Linked DNA regions of Homo sapiens: region 1 is linked to region 2. Evidence: fine-mapped QTL for protein levels in blood plasma. A gene starts in region 2. The other region holds a variant in brackets. All regions are shown on one strand. Distances are between the middles of the regions.

Region 1 (14,742 bases), 31 kb after region 2:
GGAATGCTTAAGATCCCTGTTCAAATATCAACTCCTCAGAGAGGGCTTCCACATCTCCTTACCTTGCTAGGTTTTGTCCCATAGCACATATCACATAGATTATACACTTTTAATTTATGTGTTTTTGTTTATTCACTGCAGAGCAATGCCTGGTACCATGTGCAAACTTGGCATTTGTTGAATGAATATGTGCTATGTGACAGCTGGGGCTGGGGACAAGGCAGAGAAAGAGAAAGATCCCTTTTACCTGCGTGGAGTTTACAGCCCTATCCAGGGCTAAACAAATCATTCCAAGAGGCAGGCACGGTGGTTCATGCCTGTAATTCCAGCACTTTGGGAGGCCGAGGCGGGTAGATCACCTGAGGTCAGGAGTTCGAGACCAACCTGATCAACATGCTGAAACCCTGTCTCTACTAAAAATACAAAATTATCTGGGTGTGGTGGTGCATCCCAGCTACTTGTGAGGCTGAGGCAGGAGAATCACTTGAACTCGGGAGGTGGAGGTTGCAGTGAGCCAAGACCGCGCATTGCACTGCAGCCTGGGCAGCAAGAGCAAAATTCTATCTCAACAAAACAAAACAAAACAAAAACAAAACAAAAAAATCATTCCAAGAGCAATTTTACTGGGAGCGAGGACACTCAGGGGCTGTGGCTGCATTGAGTATGGGCTGGAACTAAGCCCAGTGACTGGGGAAGCCCTCAGAAAAAATGGCCTTAAGTAGGAGTTAGTTGGGTGGGTGAGAGGAAGATAATTCCAAGCAGAGAGAAGAGCATGTGCAAAGGATTTAAAGTTGGAGAGATGGTCTTTGATGGGTTTGGCAAAAATGGTCCCAAGTGGCTTGTGTGTGGATGGGGAGAAGGAAAGTGGCCAGCACATGTTAAAAGGGGCCATTTAACACCCCACTTGCCTCTCACCTTTGAATTGCTTTCCTTCCTTCCTTCCTTCCTTCCTTCCTTCCTTCCTTCCTTCCTTCCTTCCTTCCTTTCTCTCGCTCTCTCTCTTTTTTTCTTTTTTTTTTTTTTCGGAGTTTTGCTCTTGTTGCCCAAGCTGGAGTGCAATGGCATGATTTTGGCTCACTGCAACCTCCACCTCCCAGGTTCAAGCAATTCTCCTGCCTCAGCCTCCCAAGTAGCTGGGATTACAGGTGCGTGCCACCATGCCCAGCTAATTTTTTGGTATTTTTAGTAGAAACGGGGTTTCACCATGTTAGCCAGGCTGGTCTCGAACTCCTGACCTCGGGTGATCTGCCTGCCTTGGCCTCCCAAAGTGCTGGGATTACAGGCATGAACTACCATGCCCAGCTGTGTTGCTTTCTTTGTTTGAAATCTCTGATATCACCTGTTCTGTTTCCACTTTTCTGCCTCACTGTTTTTGTGTCCCAGGAGGCTGATGTATATGGACCACTCAATGAGCTCCTTTGTCTTGTGGCTTCCAGTTGGGTTGAAACAGCAGGGAGCCATAGCAGGCATTGGAGGGAGGGAGGAAAGTGAGGTTAGGTTATTTGTAACTCATCTTCTTTCCATGCAGGCTGGCTGTGTCCCTCCACCGGAGGTTCAGAACTCTTGACAGGTGGACCTCTTTGCATAGCCCTGTCTGGTCCAGGTTCTAGCAACTTTAGTTCCTTGGCCCCAGGTCCTAGGGGTGGTAACTAATTTCAGCTGTTACCAGCCCCTGGTGTGCTGCACTATCCCTTTGAAAATAGTGCTTTTTATTAAACTCTCTACAAATTACTCCACTTAAGTGTTCGGTCTGTTTCCTGCCGAGTTCTTTTTTATTTTTATTTTTTTTGAGATGGAGTCTCACTCTGTCACTCAGGCTGGAGTGCGGTGGCACGATCTTGGCTCACTACAACCTCTGCCTCCCGGGTTCAAGTGATTCTCCTTCCTCAGCCTCCCGAATAGCTGGGACTACAGGCGTGAGCCCCCATGCCCGGCTAATTTTTGTATTTTTAGTAGAGACAGGGTTTCACCATGTTGACGAGGCTGGTCTCGAATTCCTGAGCTCAGGAGATCTGCCCGCCTCGGCCTCCCAAAGTACTAGGATTACAGGCATAAGCCACCGCGCCTGGCCCTCTTTTGTTTTTAGAGACAGGGTCTCACTCTGTTGCTCAGACTGGAGTGAAGTGGTGCAATTGTAGCTCACTGAAACCTCAAACTCCTGAGCTCAAGCAATCGTCCCACCTCAGCCTCCTGAGTAGCTGGGACTACAGGCATGTACCACTATGCCTAATTTGTTATTTTTTATAATTTTTACAAAAAATTATTTTTTTTAGAGATGGGGTCTGGCTATGTTGCTCAGGCTGGTCTTGAACTCCTGGACTGAAGCAATCCTCCTGCCTCGACCTCCCAATAATAATAATTATATATATAATTATTATATATATTATATATAATAATTATTATATATTATATATATATAATTATTATATATATATAATATATATATATATAAAGTATTTATTTTAATTGAGGTGAGGCCGGGCACAGTGGCTCATGCCTGTAATCCCAGCACTTTGGGAGGCTGAAGAGGGAGGATCACTTGAGGCCAGGAGTTTGAGACCAGCCTGGCGAACATGGCAAAACCCCGTCTCTACTAAAAATATAAAAAAATTAGCTGGCTGTGTGTCACAGGCCTGTAATCCCAGCTACTTGAGAGGCTGAGGCACGAGAATTGTTTGAACCCAGGAGCCGGAGTTTGCAGTGAGTTGAGATCGCACCACTGCACTCCAGCCTGGGCAACAGGTGAGACTCTGTCTCAAAAAAAAAAAAAAAAAAAAAAAAAAATTGAGGTGAAATTCACATAACATAAAATTAACCCTTTAAAGTGTAGAATTCAGTGACATTTAGTGCATTCACAATGTTGTGCAACTATCACCTTTATCTAGTTCCAGTGTTTTTGTCACCCCAAAAGGAGGTCCTATAACCACTCCCCCTGGGTATGGGCTTCTCTCTCCATCCCCCCTCCCCCAGCCCCTGGCAACAACTACTCCACTTTCTGTCTCTGTGAATTCACTTAGTCTGAATATTTCATATAAATGTAATAATGCACTGTGTGACCTTTTGTGTCTGGTTTCTTTCACTCAGCACAATGTTTATGAGGCTCATCCACATTGCGGCATGGATCAGGGTTTTATTTATTTTTATTTGTATTTTTTTTTTCAGACGGAGTCTCACTCTGTCCCCCAGGCTGGAGTGCAGTGGTGCGATCTTGGCTCACTGCAATCTTTGCCTTCCGGGTTCAAGCGATTCTCCTGCCTCAGCCTCCCGAGTAGCTGGGATTACAGGTGCCCGCCACCGTGCCCAGATAATTTTTGTATTTTTAGTAGAGACAGGGTCTCACCATGTTGGCCAGGCTGGCTCAACCTCCTGACCTCAGGTGATCCACCTGCCTCGGCCTCCCAAAGTGCTGGGATTACAGGCAAGAGCCACCTCGCCCGGCCTTTATTCTTTTTTATGACTGAGTAATATTCCATTGTATGGATGGACCACAGTTTGTTTATCCATTCATCTGTTGGTGGAATTTGGGTTGTTTCCACCTTTGGCTATAATAAATCGTGCTATCCCGAGCACTCCTCTACAATTACGTGTGAGTAACTGTTTTCTTTTCTCTTTCTTTCTCTTTATCTCTCTCTCTCTCTCTCTCTCTCTCTCTCTCTCTCTGTCTCTTCTTTCTTTCTTTTTCTTTTTTTTTGAGACAGGGTCTCATTCTGTAGCCAGGCTGGCGTGAAGTGGTACAATCTCAGCTGACTGCAATCTCAGCCTCCCAGTCTCAAGCTGTCTATCCTCCCACCTCAGCCTCCCAAGTAGCTGGGACTATAGGTACGCACATCATGTCCAGCTAATTTTTTATATTTTGTAGAAATGAAGTCTTGCTATGTTGTTCCCCAGGCTAGTCTGGAACTCCTGGGCTTAAGTGATGCTCTCTTGCCTCAGCCTCCCAAAGTGCTGAGATGACAGCTGTAGACCACTGTACCTGGCAAGTACTTGTTTTCAGTTATTGTGTGTGTATACCTAGGAGTGGAATATCTGGGTCCTATGGTAATTCTGATTAGCTTTTTGAGAAATTCCCAAACTGTTTTCCACTGTGGCTGAACCATTTTACGTTGCCACCAGCAGGGTATGGCGAGATCCCTCTTCTTTTTATCTTTGACTCCCTGCCATGACCTGCCACATCCACTCCCAGACAGCTTTCTACTACCATTTCCCAAGTCCAGCCACAGCCTCCACTTCCTCCCCTCCCACTTCAACCTCACCCCACTGAGCCCTGGGCTGTGGCAGGCTGAGGGCTCTGGTGGCATGGGAACCACACAGCTCTAGAGCTTGGGTTCCTTGACGTCTAGGTGCCAGTGATGGTCCCTACTACCACTCTTCTCAAACTCCATCTCCAGCTCCAGCTCAGTGCTGCTGCCTGTCCTCTCTATAAATGTAGCTATTATCTCTGAGGTCAGGAGTTTGAGACCAGCCTGGCCAAAATGGCAAAACCCTGTCTCTACTAAAAATACAAAAATTAGCCGGGCGTGGTGGTGCAAGCCTGTAATCCCAGCTACTCAGGAGGCTGAGGCAGGAGAATTGCTTGAACCCGGGAGGTGGAGGTTGCAGTCAGCCAAGATAGCACCACTGCACTCTAGCCTGGGTGACAGAGCAAGACTCTGTTTGATTAAAAAATAAAATAAAAGGCCAGGCACGGCAGCTCATGCCTGTAATCCCAGCACTTTGGGAGGCCAAGGCAGGTGGATCACTTGAGGTCAGGAGTTTGAGACCAGCCTGGCCAATACGGCGAAACCCCGTCTCTACTAAAAATACAAAAATTAGCCGGGCTTGGTGGTGGGCACCTGTAGTCTCAGCTACTCGGGAGGCTGAGGCAGGAGAATCGCTTGACCCCGGGAGGCGGAGGTTACAGTGAGCCAAGATTGTGCCACTGTATCCAGCCTGGACAACAGAGCAACAGAGTGAGACTCCATCTTAAAAAAAAAAAAAAAGTGGCTGTGATCCCCACTTCTGCCCTCCCCTCCTCTTCTCTGCCCACCTCCCTCCTGAGTGATCTCGCTGACCTACTGCCATGCCATCCACCGTCTTCCCAAGGCAGGTGACTCACAGATGCAATTCTCAGGAGGTGCCCTCACGCTGAGCCCAACTGCCTCCTGGATGTCTCCCTGAATGTCATCCCATGAGACCCACGAGACTTTTAGACTGAAGGTGACCCACGGTTTCCCAATCTTAGCACTGTCAACATTTGAGCCTGGATTATTCTTTGGGGGTGGGGGTGTTCTGGATGTTGAATAATATCTCTGGCCTTCACCCACTAGATGTCAGTTGCACCACCCTGAATTCCCCCACCCCCACCTCTACCCCCCACCCAGCAGTATGATCTCCTGATGTTGCTAAACATTCCCTGGCGGAAAACTCTACTCTGCTGGGATGGCCCCAATCAACTGCAAACTCAAACAGCTGATGTTTGTCCAGCCTGTGCCCTGTGCCAGGAGTGGGGCTGAACACCACCTCATCACATGGGCTTCTTCTGCATTTTATGCATAGGGAGATGGAGGCTCAGAGCAGCCATGTGACTAGCTCAAGGCCACACATCCACGAAGCCCACTCTTAGTGCTCCAGGCCCTTTCACTTACTCCTCCTTCCTGGTCTCCAGCTCTTTGAGAGCAGAGAAGCCAGGCAGATGGCTTCTTTTCCTTCTCTCTTCCCTAGAACCCCGTATTTAGCCAGTGGTCAGTGGAGATGACCTCCGGGACCTCATCCTTAACCCCTTCCTGGGTCTCAGCTACCCCCACCCTTTGTCTCTGTCCCCTGCAGCCACTGGAGGGGTCCCTCTCAAACTTCACTCTATGTGGATCTCTGCATTTTCCAAAGTGCTTCTAGTAAGCTCCCCCTTGGCCAGAATTACTGGCAAAACAAAATTCATATCCCTAAAAAATAGGCTTTCATGCTGCGTTAATTATGAATAAAAAATTAATAAAATAAGCTCTTCCTCAGAAGTAAAAAAGATTAAAGACACAAATAAATATAAATATTTTTTTTTAAAAGTTCTAGGAGCTGGGAGAATGGCTTGAGCCCAGGAGTTTGAGACCAGCCTGGGCAACATAGTGAGACCCTGTCTCTAAAAAAATGAAAAAAAAAAATTAGCTGGGTGTGGTGGCACGTGTCTGTAGTCCCAACTACCCAGGAGGCTGAGGCAGGAGGATGGCTTGAGCCCAGGAGTCACCCCAGCCTGGATGACAGAGTGAGACCAATCAACTAACAGGGGGCACCTCCCCTACTCAAGCACCATCCATGGCTCCCCACTGCCCACCAGATCAAGATCCAGCCATTCAAACTGGCCTTCACAGTCAACTCCTGCATCCCTCCAGCCTCCACACCTCTCACACTCCAAGGCCAGGGAAAGCCATCTGCTAAGTCACACCCTCCAGTTTCTCTGTGCTTGAGCTCTACCCCCTCTCCTGCACTTGTTGAAATCCAACCTCTCCATGCAGTCCCAGCTCAAGTGTCACATCCTCCACGTCGCCTTCCCTGACCTCATGTCTGCCTCCTCCAAGCAGCAAAACTTCAATTACTTGTGTCTCCTCTTCTTCACCAGGAGACATGCCCCACACCTCCCACGCCCTCTTTCCAAGGGCCCAGCACCAAATGAGAGCGTATTCTTAGAAAAAAGAGGGATAAGGAAGTCTTCTAAGTTTACCACCTGCTGGGGCAAGTGGAGATTCTTGTCTTCTCATCTGTCTGCCCACGTGCTAAGGTCAGCCACACATCCACCCACCGACTCCGGAGGACAGACACATCCAGAGGCGGAGCTGACTCTGTCTCCACACATCTGGAGTAGACGGGTTGGCCAAGGACAACATCCTGGTCAGAGGGTCAAGGTGTCTGGCAGTGGGTGGGGAGGAGTGGCGGAGGGCGGGTTGGCGGGGAGCAGAACCAGTCTGGTGCTGCTTGTTGAGGTTGGAGGTCTTCCTGGAGGAAGAGGCTGCAGAGCCTCCAGGGGTGGGTGCCGGGGAAGCTTAGGCCCAGGATCCAGAGAGAGGGGAAGGGCTGGTTCCCAAGGGCTGGTGGAGCCAGAGAATTCCTGAGGGCCCCAGAGGAGGCTTCTCGGGGGGGTCAGTGGGGCCCCAGGGGGTGATGGTTTAGAGATCGCTGTCCAAGCTTGGGAGCAAACCTGGAAGTAAGGGCCATGGGGGGTGTTGGTGTGGGAGGAGTGTGGTCCAGAGCGGGACTTGGGCGCTAATGCGGCCCAGCAGTGGCAGGAGGGCGGGGAGCCTGATGGTTTGGGACTTCTAGGTGTCCAAGTCTCTGTCTCTCTTCATCTCTCCATCTCAGTCTCAGTCTCTCTCTCTTTCCATCGCTCTCCACCCCTCCACACGCCTATTTCTTGTTCTCTCCTTTTCTAGGGGGCAGCGCTGGAGTCCCCGCCCAGAACCCTGCGGGAGCCCGGGGCGGGATGTCCGGGGGCGGACCCCTCGGCACGGCCGGGCGGGGTTAAAGGGTTGGGCCGTGGGACGGCGCGGTCAGATCCCAGGTAGTGGCGCCGGTGGATCCGGATCGAGGGCAGGAGGCTGAGACCCGCGGGTGAGTGCGCGCGTGGTGAGGGCTGTAACCTGAGCGCGGCCGCGGCGCTGCGCTGGAACCCGAGGCTCGCGCGGTTCGGTGCTGGCGGGGCAAGGGCGAAGGTCTGCGCGCGGCGGCGGGCGGGGCGCAGCCGGCCACGGGGACCCCCCCAGGACCCAGGACGGGGCTGCATGCCCGGGGCACTCGTGGGGAGAGGGGCACGTGGGTGTGTCCCCGACGTTTGCTGCATTTGTGAGTTGTTTTCTTTTTTTTTTTTTCTGTGTGCGCCTCGGAGTCCTAGGCGCATCCTTTTCTCTGGGTATCTGTGATGGGCAGGGGGCCTCCAAAAGACCCCTCTGGTAGTCAGGACATCCCAGATGGGTTCAAGCCCCGCCCTGGGACGCCTCTTTGGGGCTGAATGGGGATTCGCCCTGAGATTTCACCACTGCACGTTGTCTTGACGGGGAGGTTGTAGTACATTCAACCGATGGGGTTAGGCTTGTGGTTCAACTGCTATCAGGAACCCTCTGCCCATCCATGCCAGACGCAGAGCCCCTCTATGAAAAGACGGTGTTCTTCTGGCCCCGAGAGTTGGCTCTGAGGGTTGTGTGAGGTCCTGGGGTTGGTCCCAGGTGATCTTCGTCTGATAGATGCTGGAAGGAAGATGTTTTCTGGCCTCCCAGGGGCCTGGCCCAGCCTGGGTATGCAAGTTGGCCGAGGCTGGCCACCTGGGGAGTCGCAGGCTGGAGAGGCCTAGGCTCAGGGCATCTCTCCTGGTTCATCTGCCCGCTCACAGCTCATTCATGCACTCATTGTGAGTCTCACCGCCCTGTAGGCAAAGGAGATGGCCAGGGCTGGCTGCGTACCCGAAATTCCTCCTACCCTGTGCCCCTTGCTCCACCCCTTATTTCTAGGTCCTGGAGCTGTGCCCAGCCAGGGCTGGCAGCATCAAACTCCTTCTTGTGTAACTCCAAACCCCAAAGAGAAGGAACCTCCCCAAATCTTCCCTACCACCCTCATTTTACAGGCACGGAAACTGAGGGCCAGAGAGAAGAAGCCTGTGCCTGTGGATACCCAGTGCCCAGTGGGAGAGCTGGGATTTGAAAAAACAAGCCCTGTTTGACCCCAAAGCCTCAGTCCACTTTCCGATGTCCCCGGCATCACCAAATGGCCCAGCTTGGGTTTCTGAACAGTAACATTAACTCTGGCCTGGTGTCTGGCGGTGACCCAGGTTGGTATCTGCAGAGGGGCTTGGATGACTTGAGAGGCATTCAGGGAATGGGACCCATCTCTCCTTCCTTCCTTCCTTCCTTCCTTCCTTCCTTCCTTCCTTCCTTCCTTCCTTTCTTTCTTTCCTTCCTTCTTTCTTTCTTTCTTTCTTTCTTTTCTCT[G/GTC]TCTCTCTCTCTTTCTTTCTTTCTTTCTTTTTTTGTTGTTGTTGTTGAGACAGGGTCTCACTTTGTCACCCAGGCAGGAGTGCAGTGGCATAATCATAGCTCACTGCAGCCTCGATCTCCTGGGTTCAAGCAATCCTCCTACCTCAGCCTCCTGAGTATGGAGGACTACAGGCATGCACCACCACTCCTGTCTACTTTTTGTATTTTTGGTAGGGATGGGGTTTCACCATGTTGCCCAGGCTGGTCTTGAACTCTTGGGCTCAAGTGATCCACCCGCCTCAGCCTCCCAAAGTGCTGGGATTACAGGCATGAGCCACTGCGCCTGACTCATCTCTCCTTGTTGATAAAACTTGGACCTGATTCTCCAAACCCCAGATGGCCAGGTCACAATAATGAACGTGATGGCAGCACCAACGGTAATGAGAGATATCATTGATCAAAGGCTTACTATGTGCCTGGAAGATTGCAGCCCCATGAGGTGGGTAAATAGGGCTTCTGTCTTAATGGATGAAGAAATTGAGGCTCAGAGAGGTGCAGACACTCACCCGAGGTCGCACAGCAAAGAGGCAGACCTTTATAGAATCTTTTCTGAGGCTCATGTCCAGGTGTGGCCACACTTGGGATGGTGGGCAGAAACAATTACAACCCTGCAATGGTCTAGATTATTAGTGGTTTTAAAACTTCTTTTTCTGCCAGGATCCCCTTTGGGCCAAGGAAATTATTAGCAAAAGGTTTGAATATGATCAAAGCTGCGATAGGACTGTCTCCTTTACCACATTTGCCAACTTGGCCCTGCCCTCATTAGTCATAAATGACTCTGAAGCTCTTTCTCAGAACCTTAGAAATTTAGAGTGCTGAGTGGAGACTGAAGACCTAGAAGCCAGGCTGAGTGTGGTGGCTCATGCCTGTAATCCCAGCACTTTGGGAGGCTAAGGCTGGAGGATGGTTTGAGCCCAGGACTTTGAGACCAGCCTGGGGAATATAGGGATACCATATATATATATATATATATATTTTTTTTTTTTTTTTTGAGATGGAGTTTTGCTCTTGTTGCCCAGGCTGGAGTGTAATGGCGTGATCTTGGCTCACTGCAACCCCTGCCTCCCGGGTTCAAGCTGTTCTCTTGCCTCAGCCTCCTGAGTAGCTGAGACTACAGGCATGTGCCACCATGCCTGGCTAATTTTGTATTTTTAGTAGAGATGGGGTTTCTCCATGTTGGTCAGGCTGGTCTCGAACTCCCGACCTCAGGTGATCCTCCCTCCTCCCAAAGTGCTGAGATTACAGGCATGATTACAGGCATGAGCCACCGCGCCCAGCACTATATTAATTTTTTTTAACAAAAAAATTAAAAAAAAATTAGCTGAGCATGGTGGCAGGCGCCTGTAGTCCCAGCTACTCAGGATGCTGAGGTGGGAGGATCACTCAAGCCCAGGACGGGGAGGTTGCAGTGAGCCAAGATCACACCACTGCACTCCAGCCTGAAGGACACAGCAAGACCATGTCTAAAAAACAAAACAAACAAACAACAACAACAACAAAACAACTTAGAAGTCCCCTCTCAGCTCCAGCCTTCTGGGGTCTGGCACTTTGGGGGAATATGTGAGTCTCTGGGGTAAGCCAGCCCTCTGATGTTGAGGAAGCCAAGGTGGCACCATGAATCAGTGGGGACGGGGGCAGGCTGCCTTGACTACAGGCTTGGAGTGAAAAGGAGGGCTGGGATTTGGGGTGATGGGGCCAGCGTTGGGGTGCTCTTCCATCAGGCTCCTGGCTGGTCCCAGCCCCTGCAGTTCAAGAAGAGGCATGTATCTCGTACCTGGCGTCGGCCTGGGTCCGTGCCCTCCACTCCTTCTTGGGAGCCCACACACCTTGTATAACAAGTCCTCAGTGGGTGAACGGCTGGGCCAACCTGACAAACCAGCGCGACCTGGGCGTGGGCCGGGACACGGAGCCAGTCGCTGGCTTTCACCACCACCAGATAATGCGGGCCCTGGCAGGGCAGGGCCACCTCTACCAAGGCGGGCCTGCTGGATGAGATCGGGGGCCGGTGTAGATAGGGAGTGGACATGCCAGCCGCCCACAACATTCTGAGGGTGTCACCTTTGAATTGCTCTCACTTCTATCAAATAGCAATAATAGGAGTAGTCATCATGGCTAACATTTTGTGAGCTACGTGACAAGGCCTTTCCATGCCTCATTTCACTGAGCCGTCCCAAAAACCTTAGGGGGTAGGTCCTGTTATTATCAACCCATTTCACAGATTGGCAAAGGGAGGCTGATGGCAGGGACTGGGTTCACCCAAGGCTGCTAACCTAGGGAATAGGAGAGCTGAGATTTGAACCCAGGCCTGTTGAAGTCAAAAGTGAACATTAAATTAAATTAAATTAATTTTAGTTTTTGAGATAGAGTCTCACTCTGTCCCCCAGGCTGGAGTGCAGTGGCAAGATTTTGGCTCATTGCAACCTCTGCCTCAGCCTCCCAAGTAGCTGGGGCTACAGGCATCCACCACCATGCCCAGCTATTTCTTTTTTTCTTGGTAGAGACAGGGTTTCATCATGTTGCCCAGGTTGGTCTTAAATTCCTGACCTCAAGTGATCCTCCCTCCTCAGCCTCCCAAAGTGCTGGGATTACAGGCATGAGCCACCATGCCTGGCCTGATTTTTTTGTTTTTTAGTAGAGACGGAGTCTCACTATGTTGCACAGGCTGGTCTCAAATTCCTTGGTTCAAGTGATCCTCCCATCTTGGCCTCCCAAAGTGCTGGGATTACGGGCATGAGCCACTTCACCTGGCTGATACCTTTCCTCCATTATCTAAACTCCATAGTTTACATTAGGATTCACTCTTTGTGTCATGCAGTAAACTAATGAATTTTTATAATTGATTCAATTTTTTTTGAATGGGTGACATGTGCTCATGGTATAGGAAACCAAAACGACTGGAAAAGTGGATAGTAAACTTAAGTTTCCCTTCCACCCCTGTCCCGAGTTCTTTCAGGCCCTTTCCAGAGGCTGCCACCATTTTTCCTGGGTCCTCAAAGCTTTTCTCTCTCTCTCTCTCTCTCTTTTTTGTATTACCATTTATTGGTGACAAACACTAAGTTTTACTCGCATTCCATGAGGAGAAAAACTCCAGTGTAAACGATGAATGGAGGCAGTACTTAACTCGCAGGGGTACCAGGCTTTCCATATGGACCACACACAGAGCCTCAGTGCACACACTTCTTTTTTCATTTTTATTTTTTTGAGACGGAATCTCGCTTTGTGACCCAGGCTGGAGTGCAGTGGCATGTTCTCGGCTCACTGCAACCTCTGCCTCCCGAGTTCAAGCGATTCTCCTGCCTCAGCCTCCTGAGTAGCTGGGACTACAGGCGAATGCTGCCACGCCCTGCTAATTTTTTGTATATATATATATTTTTTTTTTTTTTTTTTTTTGAGACAGAGTCTCACTCTGTCACCGAGGCTGGAGTGCAGTGGCGCGATCTCGGCTCACTGCAAACTCCGCCTCCCGGGTTCACGCCATTCTTCAGCCTCAGCCTCCCGAGTAGCTGGGACTACAGGCGCCCGCCACCTCGCCCGGCTAATTTTTTTTATTTTTAGTAGAGACGGGGTTTCACCGTGTTAGCTAGGATGGTCTCGATCTCCTGACCTCGTGATCTGCCCGCCTCGGCCTCCCAAAGTGCTGGGATTACAAGCGTGAGCCACCACGCCCAGCCTAATTTTTTTGTATTTTAGTAGAGATGGTGTTTCACCGTGTTGTCCAGGCTGGTTGCGAACTCCTGAGCTCAGGCAATCCGCACCCCCCTCGGTCTCCCAAAGTGCTGGGATTACAGGCGTGAGCCACCGCACCCGGCCCAGTGCACACACTTCTGTGTATAGTAACACAACATCAAAAGCAACACAACTGTATAAAGAAACATAGGTCATACTTTTCAGCCCTAATCGAGATGTAATTAATAGTATCGAGCACTCTGGAAAATCAGTCTGCAGTTTTATGTGAACTATGTGGAGATCATATCCTGTAGTGTAGTGAAAGCTAAGTCCTCAAGAGCCGTATGTATAGACACATGATTTTCTTAAAGAATATTTAAAATGGAGATCAAAGTTCATTTGTTTAAGTCCTGTTTGCATTAACAAAAATAAAAATAAAATAAAAATGGAAGCAAATGATCATCTAAAGTTTAAAATTCCTAAATTGTCCAATTTATACAACTGTGGGAGACTTATTCAAGGTTTTTGAAAGTCCAGGACTGTTTCAGCTGAACCATAGGGCACGTAATTTGCATCACTGAAATGGTGCTGGGTTAGTCAATGAAATAAAAATGTCTAACTACATACACGTGGATATGATCTTTGTCGGTTAGATTATTGATAAAGTCAGTCTCAGAAAAGTTTCCAAACTGTGCGATATAATTAGATACAGTTGAGAAACTCTCAAATGAAAATTTTATATAGTGTCGTCGGGCACGGTGGCTCATGCCAGTAATCCCAGCACTTTGGGAGGCCGAGGCGGGTGGATCACGAGGTCAGGAGTTCAAGACCAGCCTGGCCAAGATGGTGAAACCCCGTCTCTATTAAAAGTACAAAAACTAGCTGGGTGTGGTGGCCCAGCTACTCGGGAGGCTGAGGCAGACAATTGCTTGAACCTGGGAGGCAGAAGTTGCAGGGAGCCAAGACTGTGCCGTTGCACTCCAGCCTGGGTGACAGAGTGAGACTTTGTCTTGAAAGAAAGAAAGAAAGAAAAAGAAAGAAAGAAAGAAGGAAGGAAGGCAGGAAGGAGGAAAATTTTATATAGTGTCATACCAATAAAAAGGAAATAATGAAACTAAGAATACAGATCACTGTTGGAAGAGAAAGCAGTGGTGATGGTGTGGGCACTGCAGGAAGTGGTGGGGCCGTGGCACACTAGAAGTTAGGTCATGCTGAATAGGAAGCATTTGACTTTCTCTGGTGCTTTTAGCTCTGGGGCTGGTTGAAGGCCTCTCTCTGGTGTGGCTGTCCAGGGTTTGTCCCAACTAAGCCAGCTTGAGAAGGGGTCATGCTTTCAGTTTCTTCTTTCACACGGGAAAAAAAAGACCAAACAGGAAGGTGCCCAGGGCGTGGATCTGCTGGTGCCCCAGGAGAGCCAGCTGGCTGGGCAGCCCTTCTTCCCCAAAGGCAGCTGGTATTGCGTAGGGACAGCCAGGTCACCGAGTGGCCGTCACAACAAACCCCAGCACAGTCCAGCCCGGCCACAGCCACCTCCCCTGTTGTGTTCCCTGCTGCTGCCCACATCCTTTACCCACCGTCTCTCGGCCCACTAGAGGTATCAGAAATTCCAAATTTTCAAAGCAGTTTTAATATTTTCAGTGTATATGTTGGGATTTTATAATGGTTCATGGCCAGAAAAGGTTCAGCACCTCCCACACACAGACATTGATCCATTTCCTGTTCTTGGCATCTCTGTACTTTGTTGGTCCAACTCAGACAGCAACTTTAAGGTGTTCAGTGCAGCTGGCCAGGCACGGTGGCTCACGCTTGCAATCCCAGCACTTTGGGAGGCCGAGGTGGATGGTTCGCCTGAGGTCAGGAGTTCAAGACCAGCCTGGCCAATATGGTGACACCCCGTCTCTACTAAAAAGTACAAAAATTAGCCAGGTGTGGTGGCGCATGCCGGTAATCTTAGCTACCCAGGAGGCTGAGGCAGGAGAATTGCTGGAACCCGGGAGGCAAAGGCTGCAGTGAGCTGAGATAGCACCACTGTACTCCAGCCTGGGCAACAGAGCGAGACTCTGTCTTTTTTTTATTTTCTTTTGAGATGGAGTCT
Region 2 (14,742 bases):
CGTGTAGTGCAGGCTGCGAAGACTCACCGCGGTGAAGTGCGGCCAGGTGCGCAGCAGGTCGAAGAGCGCGTCGCCGGGGCAGTCGGTGCGCACCAGCTGGCGGTGGCCCAGCAGCGCGTAGTCTGGCCGCAGGAGGCCGGCGCGCACCGCACAACTCGGGAGCGTGTCGCGCACCGTGCGCAGAGCGGCCTCGGTGGGCAGCGCCGCGGTGTAGTTGCCCACTATGGCCACGCCGAAGCCCCGGGAGTTGTGGCCGAGCGTGTGGGCGCCCACCCAGTGCCAGCCGCGTCCCTCGTACACGTAGCCGTCCGAGCCCACCACGAAACTGCAGAGGGGAGGGAGAAGCAAGCACCATGCGGCGTGAGGGGGACCCGGGCCCTTATCCGCTCCCCTCCCCGATTCTGTTGGTGTGCCAAGGGCCACCGACCCCAAGACCCGCGCGGTCGCGCTGCCTGTGTCCCATCCAGCTCTGTTCCACTCTCACACCAGCTGCCACTCCAGGACCGTTCGGTTTCTCTGGATCCGCCCTTCAGTACTGGCACGCCCCTTTCTGCCCTTCTCCTCCCCACCTCTGCCTTTTCTCAAGCCCAGTTCTTGCCCAATTCAGAGAGCTTTTCTGTTTTTGGGTTTTTTTTCTTTCCTTCCTTCCTTCCTTCCTTCCTTCCTTCCTTCCTTCCTTCCTTCCTTCCTTCTTTCTTTCTTTCTTTTTTTGATGGAGTTTCACTCTTGTCGCTGAGGCTGAAGTGCAAGGGCGCGATCTCGGCTCACTGCCACCTCCACCTCCCGGGTTCAAGCGATTCTCCTGCCTCAGCCTCCGGAGTAGCTGGGATTACAGGCACCCGCCACCACGCCCATCTAATTTTTTTTTTAATTTTTATTTTTAGTAGAGACGGTGTTTCGCCATGTTGGCCAGGCTGGTCTCGAACTCCTGACCTCAGGTTATCTGCCCTCCTCGGCCTCCCAAAGTGCTGGGATTACAGGCGTGAGCCACTGTGCCCAGCCTTCTCCCCTCCCCTCGCCACCCCTCCCTTCTTCCCTTCCCTTCCCTTCCCTTTTGGAGACGGAGTTTCGCTCTTGTAGCCCAGGCTGGAGTGCAACGACGCGATCTCGGCTCACTGCAACCTCCGCTTCCCAGGTTCAAGTGATTCTCCCGTCTCAGCCTCCCGACTAGCTGGGATTACAGGCATGCACCACCACGCCCGGCTAATTTTGTATTTTTAGTAGAGACGGGGTTTCTCCATGTTGGCCAGGCTGGTCTGGAACTCCCGACCTCAGGTGATCCACCCGCCTCAGCCTCCCAAAGTGCTGGGATTACAGGCGTTAGCCACCGCTCCCGGCCTCCTTCTTCTTTTCGAGACGGGTTCTCGCTCTGTCACTCAGGCTAGAGTGCAGAGATGCGATCATAACTCACTCAAGCCTCGAACTCCTGGGCTCCAGCGATCCTCCCACCTTAGCCTGCCGAGTAGCTGGGACTACAGGCGCGCAACACCATGCCCAGCTTTTTTTTTTTTTTTTTTTTTTTTTTTGAGACGGAGTCTCGCTCTGTCGCCCAGGCTGGAGTGCAATGGCGCGATCTCGGCTCACTGCAGGCTCCGCCTTCCGGGTTCACGCCATTCTCCTGCCTCAGCCTCCCAAGTAGCTGGGACTACAGGCACCCGCCATCACGCCTGGCTAATTTTTTTGTATTTTTTAGTAGAGACGGGGTTTCACCGTGTTAGCCAGGATGGTCTCAATCTTCTGACCTCGTGATCCTCCCGCCTCGGCCTCCCAAAGTGCTGGGATTACAGGCGTGAGCCACTGCGCCTGGCCTTTTTAAGTTTTTTTTGTTTGTAGAGATGGGTGGTGTGGGGGGGTGTCTTCCTATATTGCTCAGGCTGGTCTCGAACTCCTGGGCTCCAGCGATCCTCTCTTCTCAGCCTCCCAAAGTGGTGAGATTACAGGCGGGAGCCACCGCACCAGGCCTCCTTGTCTGTTTTAGGCCATCTCTGCCTGGCCCCAGACCCAGACTCTGCCACAGGTCCCGCTCCTCTCCCAGATCCCGCCTCCTGTACTAGTTCTCTACCCTGACTGGAGTCCCATGATTTAGCTATTCCCGGTCCCTATTAAGGCCCCGCCCCTAGCCTAAGCCACGCCACCTCTCCAACTTTGCTCTACCTATCAGGACTCCTCCTTGGTCTTGCCAGCTTTCCTCGGGTTCAAGCCCGGTCCCCTGCATCAGGCTCCGCCCACTCAGACCCCATCCCCGAACGTGGGCCCCGCCCCCTCCCCGGTCGGGCCCCTCCTACCTGTAGCCGATGTCTCCCCAGCCTTGCGTGTCCTGGTGGTAGCGCTGCATGGAGCGCATGTTGGCTGCGCAGCGCGTGAAGTCCGTGCAGGGTGGTGCAGGCACGTAGGTGTGATGCACGTACAAGAATCCCAGCGGCAGCTGCAGCAGCTTCGGGCGGCCCCGATAAGGCGCCGCTCCCCAGCGGCAGCGGGGGTGGATGGCCGGGCATCCTACAGGCAAGGGGGTTGAAGGCTGGGGTCAGGAACTGTTTCTCTGCCTGTTCCTCCACCCGCATTAAAGCGCACATACAGACCATCCCTCAGCCTCCTCTCAGATTTGGAAAGGGTCCAGTCTCACCCCACATTGGTCCTCCCTGGGGACCAACTAACTATACTCAACTAAATCTATTTTATTTTTATTAAAAAAAATTGGGGGTGGGCCGGACGTAGTGGGTCTCACCTGTAGTCCCAGCAGTTTGGGAGGACGAGGTGGGTGGATCACTTGAGGTCAGGAGTTTGAGACCAGCCTGGCCAACATGGTGAAACCCGGTCTCTACTAAAAATACAAAAATCAACCAGGCATGGTGGCACATGCCTGTAATCCCAGCTACTTGGGAAGCTGAGGCATGAGACAACTTGCTTGAGCCTGGGAGGTGGAGGTTGCAGTGAGCCGAGATTGTGCTATTGCACACCAGCCTGGGTGACAGAGCAAGACTCTGTCCCCCCCAAAAAAAAATTGGAGGTGGGGGCAGGCATGGTGGCTCACTCCTGTAATCAATCCCACACTTTGGGAGGCGAGGTGGGTGGATTGCTTGAGCCCAGGAGTTCAAGACCAGCCTGGGCAACATAGTGAGACCTCATTTTCTAGAAAAAGAGAAATCAGATTTCCCAAAGCAATCTACAGATTCAATGCAATCTCTATCAAAATATCAAAGTCATTTTTCACAGAATTAGACAAAACTATCCTGAAATTCGCAAGGAACCAAAAATGAGCCCAAATAGCAAAAGCAATTCTAAGCAAAACGAGCCTGGTATCACATTACCTGACTTCAAATTATACTACAATACTATAGTAACCAAAACAGCATGGTACTGTTACAAAAATAGACACATAGACCAATGGAATGAAATAGAGAACCCAGAAGTAAAGCTGCACACCTACAAACAATAATTTTCAACTAAGTCGACAAAAATAAGCAATGGGAAAAGGACTGCCTATTCAGTAAATGGTGCTAATGGTGCTGGGACAACTGGCCAACCATATGCAGAAGAATGAAACTGGACCCCTAACTCTTACCATATACAAAAATTAACTCAAGGACAGATGCGCTAGCTCACGCCTGTAATCCCAGCAATTTTGGAGGCTGAGGTGGGTGGATCACCTGAGATCAAGAGTTTGAGACCAGCCTGGCCAACATGGTGAAACCCCGTCTCTACTAAAAATACAAAAATTAGCCGGGCATGGTGGTAGGTACCTGTAATCCCAGCTATGTGGGAGGCTGAGGCAGGAGAATCGCTTGAACCCAGGAGGCAGAGGTTGCAGTGAGCTGAGATCACATCTTTGCACTCCAGCCTGGGCAACAGAGCAAAAACTCTGTCTCAAAAAAAAAAAAAAAAAAAAAAAAAAAAAAAAAAAAAAATTGCTCAAGATAGATTAAAGACTTACATGTAAGACCTGAAACTCTAAAATACCAGAAGAAAACCTAAGGAAAACGCTTCTGAACATTGGGCTAGGCAAAGAATTCATGACTAAGACCTCAAAAGCACAGAGCAAAAGAAACAAAGTAGACAAATGGGACTTAATTAAACCAAAAAGCTTCTGCACACCAAAGATATAATCAACAGAACGAACAGACAACCTTCAGAATGGGAGAAAATATTTGCAAACTATGCACTGGTATGGGACTAATACCCAGAATTTACAAGGAACTCAAACAATTCAAGAAAGAAAAGAAAGAAAGAAAGAAAGAAAAAGAAAGAAAGAAAGAAAAAGAAAGAAAGAAAGAAACCCACTAAAAAGCGGGCAAAAGACATTAATAGACATTTTTCAAAAGAAGATATACACATGGCCAATAGGCAAAGGAAAACATGCTCAACATCACCAATCATCAGAGAAATGCAAATTAAAACCACAATGAGATATCATCTTACTCTAATCAGAATAGCTATTATTAAAAAGACAGAAAAGCCGGGTGATGGCTCACGACTGTAACCCCAGCACTTTGGGAGGCTGAGGTGGGTGGATCACCTGAGGTTAGGAGTTTGAGACCAGCCTGGGCCAACATGGTGAAACTCTGTCTCTACTAAAAATACAAAAATTAGCCGAGCATGGTGGCAGGCACCTGTAATCCCAGCTACTTAGGAGGCTGAGGCAGGAGAAACGCTTGAACCCAGGAAGTGGAGGTTGCAGTGAGCCGAGATTGTGCCATTGCACTCCAGCCTGGGAGACAAGAGTGAAACTCTGTCTAAAAACAAAACAAAACAAAACAAAACAAAAAAAATAATAATAAATTGGAACTATCATTCAATCCAGCAATCCCACTACTGGATATCTACCCAAAGGAAAATAAATCATTATATTAAAAAGATACCTGCATTCACATGTTGATCAGGGCACTATTCACAATAGCAAAGGTAAGAAATTAACTTAACTGTCCATCAAAAGAGAATTGGATAAAGAAAATATGATATATATTACAGGCCTGGATGGCTCTGGGTCTGAGAGCCCTGGACGAAGGTCAGGCCCAGGTTTCCAGCTAGGGTGATTGCCAGGAGGTTGTCTACAGTGGTCGGCAGGAAATGGAATACTACTCAGCTGTAAAAAATGACATAATGTTGGCTGGGCATGGTGGCTCACGCCCGTAATCCTAGCACTTTGGGAGGCCAAGGTGGGTGGATCACGAGGTCAGGAGATCGAGACCACCCTGATAAAATGATGAAACTCCGTCTCTACTAAAAATACAAAAAATTACCCAGACATGGTGGCACATGCCTGTAGTCCCAGCTACTCAGGAGGCTGAGACAGGAGAATTGCTTGAACCCAGGAGGCGGAGGTTGCAGTGAGCTGAGATCGTGCCACTGCACTCCAGCCTGGGCGACAGAGAGAGACTCAAAAAAAAAAAAAAAGAAAGAATGTCTTTTGCAGCAACATGGATGGAACTGGAGGCCATTATCTCAAGTGAAACAAGTCAAACACAGAAAGACAAATACCGTAAGTTCTCACTTATAAATGGGAGCTAAATAATGTGTATGCATGGATGTAGCGTGTGGAAAGATAGATAGTGGAGATTCAGAAGGGTGAGGGAGAGAGAGGAGGGAGGATGATGACAGATTGCTTAATGGGTGGATGTATGTTATTGGAGTGATGGGTACCTAAAAGCCCAGACTTGACCACTATGCAATCTATGCGAGAAACAAGGTTACACTTGTACCCCATAAATTAATGCAAATAAATATAATGAAGCAAAACAAAATGAGATGAACTCCTATTCATCCTTCAAGGCCCAACTCTGGCATTTCCTCACCTGTGCAGCTGTCCCACCCACCCCCGACCAGATCCCTTATTGCCCCCTCTGGACTCTCCTAGTCCTCAACTTCCCTGAATATACGGGGTGGGGGCGTCTGTGTCTGTAATGGGAAGGATCACAGGGTGTGGGGAACTTCCTCACCCAGGAAGGCCTCAGTGAATTCCTTGGTAGCATTGGCAGCCACCTGGGCCAGCTGTTCTTGGCTCATGCACTGAAGCTGGAGGTGTACTGGCTCCAGCCTCTGTAGAAGGACAAGGGTTCCCCACACCTGCTGGGCCAGGATGGAGGCTGAAGTCAGAGCAGCACCGTTCTGCCGTCGGAAGTTGCTGCGGAACCCTGGGTCTCTGGCCACCCCAGCCCCATAGTACTGGCTCAGCAAGTGGCTGAGGGATGGCCGGGGCTCAGGAGTCCGGCTCAGGTAGTCTCCAAGGATGACCCCATCCAGGGCGCCATTGAGGAAGGCCATGGTTAACAGAGATGCCTTGGGGTCCAAAAGCGTAAAGGTCCGAGGGGCAGAGAGCTGGTCCCAGCAGCCCTCAGTTCCCAGGTCTGGATGGCTCTGGGTCTGGGAACCTCGGAGGAAGGTCAGGCCCAGGTTTCCAGCCAGGGTGACTGCCAGGAGGCTGTCCACCATGGTCGGTGGGGACTTGGCTTTGGCATCTGGCAAGGAAGCTTGGACATCTGGACAGCCTTTTGTAGCATCTGGAGTGTTGGCTCCAATATCTGCAGTGGTGACATCTGGAGAGCCATCCCTGAGTCCTGGGGAGGAGGTGGCTCTTACATCTGGAGCAATGGCCACAACATCTGGAAAGGTATCTCCAGTCTCCCAAGGGGCAGCCATGCTGTCCAAGGGCAAATTTATGACCCTGCGCCCTTGCAGCCCTGCCTCCAGCCCCGCCAGCAGAGGCTCCACAGCCACGGTCGAGCCATCAGGTGCCAGCACCACCCCATATTCCTTCCCTTCTCGTACGTCATGTCGGGCCACCTCCTTGGTCAGGCCTAACAGCTCTGGGCTTAGTGGGCAGGGATCCAACTCTGTAGCATTGAGGCTCCATGCCCCCAGCAGGAAGTGGTAGAGGCGATTGTGGGGGCCAGAGTTTGGAGCTGACATCAGCCACGCAGAAGCTGTGTGTCTGGTCTTGGCAGCTGGCACTTTCTGCTCCAGCTCAGCCAGGGCCTGGATGACAGAGTCCATGAGCAGGGGCAGGGAGGCTGCAGGAGGAAAGAATGTGTTAGCCCAGCCCCACCCATTCCTGAGCCTCCTTGTATTGATTCCACATCTACCCAATGCTCCCAGCCCTCCATCTGATAACCCCATGACCCCCAACACTATCCTTGTGTAGATGAGGAAAGTGAGGTACACAGACTATTGCCTGTTGGTTAAGGAGCTCAGACTGTCTGTGAGTACTGGGGAGCCATGGCAGATTTATGAGCAGGACAGAGGTGTGACGAACCTGGCATTCTAAGACTCCTTTCTTAGGCTTAGATTTGTTTGGCTGCCATAAGGAAATGGATTTTTGGGGTGCCAGGATAGAAAAGGGGAGACAGTGTGGAGGTGAGAGATGAAGGTGGCAGAAGGTAGGTAGTGACATTGCAGTGGACAAAAGTGGAAGAGTCCCCAGATCGTGAGAGGGAGAGATGGATGGTCTTTTGTGATGAATTGAAGTTAAAAATTGGGGATGTTAGAGGGAAAGGTATTTTGAAAGATGCCTGGGACTGGCTGTGGTGGCTTAGGCCTGTAATCCCAGCACTTTCGGAGGCCGAGGTGAGTGGATCACCTGAGATCAGGAGTTCAAGGCCAGCCTGGCCAACACCGTGAAACCCCATCTCTAATAAAAATACAAAAATTAGCCAGGCATGGTGGTGTGTGCCTGTAATCCCAGCTACTTGGGAGGCTGAGACGGGAGAATCACTTGAACATGGGAGGTGGAGGTTGCAGTGAGCCGAGATTGCGCCACTGCACTCCAGCCTGGGTGACAGAGTGAGACTTTGTCTCAAAAAAAAAAAAAAAAAAAAAAATGCCAGACGCAGTGGCTCACGCCTGTAATCCCAGCACTTTAGGAGGCAGAGGCGGGTGGATCACCTGAGGTCGGGAGCTCAGGACCAGCCGGATCAACATGGCGAGACTCCGTCACTACTAAAAATACAAAAATTAGCTGGGCATGGTGGCACACACCTGTAACCCCAGCTACTCAGGAGGCTGAGGCAGGAGAACTGCTTGAACCCAGGAGGTGGAGGTTGCAGTGAGCCAAGAACCCCCCACTGCATTCCAGCCTGGGTGACAGAGTGAGACTCCATCATAAAATAAAATAAATAAAATAAAATTAAATTAAAATAAAATAAAATAAAATAAAATAGCCTGGGAGGCAGGGGGAAGAGCAGGATGGGCTTGTGCCATGTTGGGGAAATGTCAGTGGCTGAACTGCAAACCTAGAAATGCTAAGTTAGGCTCAGAGCTGGTTCAGAGATGGGTTATCAAATAATAGCTAACTTTCAGTAAACATTTACTATGTGCTAGCTACTAGTCTAGGTGACTTATATATTAATAATTTAACGCAGTTAGTCTTCACAACTCTTGTGAGGTAGGTCCTTTTAGCCCCTGTCTTAGTACATTGGTGCTGCTATAACAGATCTCTGAGGTTGGGTAATTTATGAAAAACAGAAATTTGGCCAGGTGTGCTGGCACATGCCTGTAATCCCAGCACTTTGGGAGGCCGAGGCAGGCGGATCACTTGAGGTCAGGAGTTTGAGACCAGCCTGGCCAACATGGTGAAACCCCGTTTCTACTAAAAATACAAAAGTTAGCCGGGTGCGGTGGCGGGCACCTGTAATCCCAGCTACTTGGGGGGCTGAGGCAGGAGGATCTGTTGAACCCGGGAGGTGGAGGTTGCAGTGAGCTGAGATCATGCTGCTGCACTCCAGCCTGGGCGACAGAGTCAGACTCTGTCTAAAAAACAAAAAAAAAGAACAGACATTTATTTCTCATAGTTCTAGAGGCTGGGAAGTCCAAGATCAAAGCACTGGCATTTGGGACTTCCTAGCCTGCAGAACTGCAAGAAAGTAAATTTCTCTTCTTTACAAATTTACTCAGTTTCAGGTACCCTGGCCTATATAGAAGCACAAAGGGACTAAGATGGTGTCCCTTTACAGATGAGGCATCTGAAGCACAGAGAGGTTAAGTTACCTGCCTAAGGTCACACAGGAAGGAAGTGGCAGAGGCAGGATTTGCCTTTGTTTTTTTTTTTTTTTTTTGAGACGGAGTCTTGCTCTATCATCCAGGCTGGAGTGCAGTAGTGCTCAGCTCACTGCAACCTCCTGAGTTCAAGCAATTTTCTGGCCTCAGCCTCCTGGGTAGCTGGGATTACAGGTGCCTGCCACCACGCCTGGCTAATTTTTGGTATTTTTAGTAGAGATGGGGTTTCACCATGTTGGCCAGGCTGGTCTCGATCTCCTGATCTCAAGTGATCTGCCCGCCTTGATCTCCCAAAGTGCTGGGATTACAGGCCTGGCCAGTAGTAGAATTTGAATCCAGGAAGTCTTACTCGACACACTCTCCTGGTCTAGAATCTAGGTTCTTCTCCAGTCCACCACCTAACCTGTGTAGCTTTGCTCTTCTCTGCAAAAAATGCCCTTTCTGGCTTCTCCCCCAAATCATTTCTCTTTCTTCCTAGCCTAGCTCTTATGTCTCCTCCTCCAAGAAGCCTTCCCTACTTTTGCTCTCCAGGCCCCAGATTCCTTCCCTTATCCTTGCCTTGACTCTGTGGAGCTGGGAATATCTATGTCCCCATGCTGGAGCTTCTTTGAGAGCTTGAGTCTCCAGCCTCACTCCATGCAGGGCAAGACATAGATGGGACAGCAGTACGCCTTCTGCAGAGCCAAGAGGTTTGGTCCCAGGACTCTGCCCCCTGACTCACCTGTCCCTGGGTCTGACCACAGTAGCAATCCGAGTAGGATCCAGAGGACACCCTGGGCCATTGTTGCAGGATTCCAGCTTCCAAGGGGTATTTCTGGTTGGCCTCGGCAGAGAACCTCGGCAGTGCTGGAGGGAGACAGGCACAGAGAACTGAGCAGAGCCTTTGACCACTGTCAAAGTCCAGCGGCGAATGACAGACCTGCCTCTCGTAGAGCTGTGGGCGGGAGGCAGCAGGGACATGGGGCAGCGTACCCTGGGTCAAGGTCATCTGGGCATCCTGGTCTCCCCCAGTCTCTTCTGTCCCTCCTAGGCTGAGGTCAGTGGTCAGTAAGCCAGGCCCATCCCCAGAGGGGCCTGGAGACCAGGTGGTTCAGACTCCATAAACTCTGCCCATTCTCCAGTGAGGTGGACCGAGGCAACCCCTCAAGTCCTGTCCCTCCCCATAGTGACGGCTCTGTAGCCGCTGCTGGCCACCAGAGGGGACTCTCAGCTGCCGCCTGCTGTACTGGTAAGACCGGCTGTGTTGAGGGAGAGGAGAGAAGCAGAGGCCTGAAGTTGGCACTGCCTTCTGCTTTTTTTTGCAACCAACACTTCAGGCTCAGGCACAGCATCGGTGCGGGGGCTGAGGACAGTGTTTGCTGAGGCCTGAAGTTGGCACTGCCTCCTGCTTTTTTTTGCAACCAACACTTCAGGCTCAGGCAGAGCATGGGTGCAGGGGCCGAGGACAGTGTTTGCTGAGGCCTGCTCTGAGCCCATGGGGACCAGGGGCTGTCACCTCTCATCCAGTTCCAGCCCTTGATTTCAAGCCACCAGCAGTAGCTGAGAGCAGGGGTTGAGCTTGAGTGTTCAGGACCCTGGCATTGTTCCAGGAGCTGGCTTCTGGACTCACCTGGGCTGACAGTGAAATGTCCTTCCTCTTCTCCGGGTGCCCATGACTGAGACCTGCAGAATGGACCCATCTCCCCTTTATTCTGGCATCAGATGGGGCAGGTTGACATGACTGGGCTGTTGTGTATGTAAATTGCTTCCCTGTGGGGCTCCCACCTCAAAACCAGCCCGGGGAGTTTCCAGGAGACCCACCAGCTGGAGACTCAGCCAGGGCAGGCCTGGGAATGTCCAGCCTGAGCCAGGCCTGGGATTCCCCTGGGGGCCACCCCTGGGGCCTCCTCAGGTGTCCTCTTTCTGGGGACCTCCCAGAAAAAAGCTGGGCACATAGTGGAAGCTCAGGATGTAGGGTGCTAAGTGATAGAGTGAATGGGGGACACTTCCCATGGGAGTAAGAGACAATGTCCTCCTCCAAGCTCGTTTCCCAGGATTTGGGGATAGGAGCTTTGCCTGGTAGAACCATATGAAGGTTGTGGGCTGAGGCAGGGACTAGGTTGAGGCATCCTCTTTGCCGCAAAATTTAAGGCAGTGTTGAAAATCTAAGTCATCAATAACTTTTTTTTTTTTTGAGACGGAGTCTCGCTCTGTCACCCAGGCTGGAGTGCAATGGCACGATCTCAGCTCACTACAACCTCCACCTCCCAGATTCAAGCAATTCTCCTGCCTCCCTGCCTCAGCCTACCAAGTAGCTCAGGTTACAGGCATGCGCCACCATGCCTGGCTAATTTTTGTATTTTTAGTAGAGACGGGGTTTTGCCACGTAGGCCAGGCTGGTCTTGAACCCCTGACTCAGGTGATCCACCCAACTTGGCCTACCAAATTGCTGGGATTACAAGCGTGAGCCACCATGCCCGGCCGATAAATAATTTTAAGACTTTTTTAGAACAGTTTTATTATTATTATTATTTTTAAAGATGGAGTCTTGATATGCTGGCCAGGTTGGTCTTAAACTCTTGGCCTCAAGCAATCCTCCTGCCTCGGCCTCCCGAAATGCTAGGATTACAGGCGTGAGCCACTGCACCCAGCTTTATTTTTTATTTTATTATTATTATTTTTTGAGGCAGGGTCTCCCTCTGTCACCCAGGCTGGAGTGTAGTGGTGCAATCTTGGCTTACTGCAGCCCTGCTTCCCAGGTTCAAGTGATTCTCCTGCCTCAGCCTCCCAAGGAGCTGAGATTACAGGTGCCCGTCCACCACTTCCAGTTAATTTTTGTATTTTTAGTAGAGACGGGATTTCAGCATGTTGGCCAGGCTGGTCTCAAACTCCCAACCTCGGGTGATCCACCTGTCTTGGCCTCTCAAAGTGCTGGGATTACAGGCTTTTTTTTTTTTTTTTTTTTTTTTTGAGACAGAGTCTCGCTCTGTTGCCTAGGCTGCAGTGTAGTGGCACAATCTTGGCTCACTGCAGCCTCTGCCTCCCAGGTTCAAGCTATTCTCCTGCCTCAGCCTCCCGAGTAGCTGGGATTACAGGTCCCCGTCACCACTCCCGGCTGATTTTTGTACTTTTAGTACAGATGTAGTTTCACCATGTTGGCCAGGCTGGTCTTGAACTCCTGACCTCAGGTGATCCACCCGCATCGGCCTCTATTTTTAATTTTTTATAGAGATGAGGGTCTCGCTATGTTGGCCAGGCTGGTCTCATCTCCTGGACTCAAGGGATCCTCCTGCCTTAGCTTCCCAAAGTGCTGGGATTACAGGCGTGAGCCACCATGCCTGGCCTAGAGCAGTTTTAGGTTCGTGACAAAATTGAGCAGAAGTTACAGAGAGTTCTACTCCCTGCCTTGACACATGCACAGACTCTCGTATTATCACTATCCAGCACCAGAATGGTATATCTGTTACAATCGATGAACCTTCACTGACACATCATTATCACCCAAAGTTCATCATTTCCATTAGGGTTTGCTCTTGGTGGTGTACATTCTATGGGTTTGGACAAATGTATAATGACATATGTCCACCACTAGAGTGTCATACGGAGTACAGTTGACCCTTGAACAACATGGGTTTGACCTGTGAGGGTCAACTTATATCTGGATTTGTTTCAATAAAAATTACATGGACTGTGCCTGCCTCTCCTCTCCCCTTCCTCCTCTTCCACCTCTGCCACCCCTGAGACAGCAAGACCCCTCCTCTTCCTCCTCCTCAGCCTACTCAACATGAAGACGGTGAGGATGAAGACCTTTATGATGATTCTCTACTTAATGAATAGTAAATATACTTCCTCTTCCATATTTTCTTCCTTCTCTTCCTTCTCCTTTCTTCCCTTCTCCTTCCTTCCTTCCTTCCCTCCCTCCCCCCTTCCTCCCTCCCTCCTTTCTTTCTTTTTTCTTTCTTTCTTTCTTCCTTTCTTTCTTTCTTTCTTTCTTTCTTCCTTCCTTCCTTCCTTCCTTCCTTCCTTCCTTCCTTCCTTCCTTCCTTCTTTCTTTCTTTCTTTCTTTCTTTCTTTCTTTCTTTCTTTCTTTCTTTCTTTCTTTCTCTTTCTTCTCTTTCTTTCTCTTTTTCTCTTTCTTTCTGGCAGAGTCTCATTCTGTCCCCCAGGCTGGAGTACAGTGGCGTAATCTCAGCTCACTGCAGCTTCCATCTCCTGGGTTCAAGCGATTCTCCTGCCTCAGCCTCCTGAGTAGCTGGGATTACAGGTACCTGCCACTATGCCCGGATAATTTTTGTATTTTTAGTAGAGATGGGGTTTCACCATGTTGGGCAGGCTGATCTCGAACTCCTGACCTCAGGTGATCCATCCACCTCAGCCTCCCAAAGTGCTGGGATTACAGGCATGAGCCACTGCACCTGGCTCGTGGATTTTTTCCAATAAGTTACATGGAGTGTGTCTGCCTCTCCTCTCTCCCCTTCCACCTCCTCCACCTCTTCCACCTCTGCCACCCCTCAGACAGCAAGACCAACCCCTTCCCTTCCTCCCCCTCAGCCTATTCAACATGAAGACGATGAAGATGAAGACCTTTATGATGACACACTTCTACTTAATGAATAGTAAACATACTTCCTCTTCCATACGATTTTCTTAGTAACTCTTCTTTTTTCCCAGGTTCAGGTGATTCCCTCGCCTCAGCCTCCAGAGTAGCTGGGACTACAGGCATGCACCACCAAGGCTAGCTAAGTTTTCTATTTTTAGTGGAGATGGAGTTTTACCACATTGGCTAAACTGGTCTTGAACTCATGACCCCAGGTAATCCACCTGCCTTGGCCTCCCAAAGTGTTGGGATGACAGGCGTGAGCCACTGCACCCCACCTGATTTCCCTTTAAAGCTTGGAGTTGGGGCAGAGACTGCCTTGTTTTAAGCCAGGGGCATGTCATGGATGGCAGGCTCTTTCCTTAGGGTCTATGTAGGATTTGTGACCTTCTGGGGCAGGACCCTTCCTCCAGGGAGCCTCTGTGGTTACCCCTTGCTCCCCTTACTCCTCCCAGCTCCCTGACCTGCTGTTCTTCCCTTCAACCTAGGCTGTGCTTACAGTGCTGGAAGGTTCTTTGTCCAGTTTTGTCTCCCCAAATCTAGGAGATGCTGAGTTTTTGGGGCTGTCCAGAAGTGCCCAGCACAGACTCAAGACCAAGTGAGTGTCAGGGAGGGATTGCTAAATGCACAAAAAGCCTGATGAATGATGTGGGGCCAGTTTGGGGTCAGGATCTGAAACACACACATGTACACCCACATTCAGGCACTCACACACCAATGCATCAGGGCTGGGCTGGGCCTGGGAGGCAGAAAGAAGGCTGGAAATCCCACAATGAATCACCTCTACCCCAGGTTTCCTTCAACCTCAGGAGGCCCACTTGTCAGATAAATCAAGGCCCCTTGGCCGGGTGCGGTGGCTCACGCCTGTAATCCCAGCACTTTGGGAGGCCAAGGCGGGCAGATCACCTGAGGTCAGGAGTTCAAGACCAGCCTGACCAATATGATGAAACCCCGTCTCTACTAAAAATACAAAAATTAGCTGGTGTGGTGGCATGCACCTGTAATCCCAGCTACTCAGGAGGCTGAGACAGGAGAATTGCTTGAACCCGGGAGGCAGAGGTTGCGGTGAGCTGAGATCGCGCCATTGCACTCCATCCTGGGCAACAAAAGCAAAACTCTGTCTCAAAAAAAAAAAAAAAAAAAAAAATCAAGGCCCCTCCAGGCTGCAGAGAGACTAGAGG

Direction of the effects. Alleles are on the strand shown, and positions count from the first base shown. The strength of an association depends on the size of the effect and on how common the allele is.
In carriers of allele G in region 1, the plasma level of the protein whose gene starts at base 9,897 in region 2 tends to be higher than with GTC alone (weak association).

What was found. A credible set is the group of variants that fine-mapping cannot tell apart. PIP is the chance, under the fine-mapping model, that this variant and not a neighbour inherited with it causes the effect. Protein levels are from antibody-based Olink assays in UK Biobank. Linkage for the fine-mapping came from a reference panel and not from the study's own genotypes, which makes the PIPs less certain.
Region 1: its variant is the best candidate, but not a certain one, in a credible set for the plasma level of the PGLYRP2 protein (UK Biobank, PIP 0.65).

The regions. Positions count from the first base shown.
Region 1 is chr19:15,501,012-15,515,753 of GRCh38, forward strand. It overlaps CYP4F22 (cytochrome P450 family 4 subfamily F member 22), which reads left to right and starts at 7,514. Exons shown (of 14, transcript NM_173483.4): 1 at 7,514-7,572. It also overlaps the pseudogene LOC100422106. RefSeq lists an enhancer at 7,158-7,658. The variant G/GTC (reference allele first, on the strand shown) is at 8,943.
Region 2 is chr19:15,469,605-15,484,346 of GRCh38, forward strand. PGLYRP2 (peptidoglycan recognition protein 2) reads right to left here and starts at 9,897. Exons shown (of 5, transcript NM_052890.4): 1 at 9,707-9,897; 2 at 5,934-7,004; 3 at 2,286-2,496; 4 at 28-325. The coding sequence starts at 9,767. RefSeq lists enhancers at 282-371, 382-431.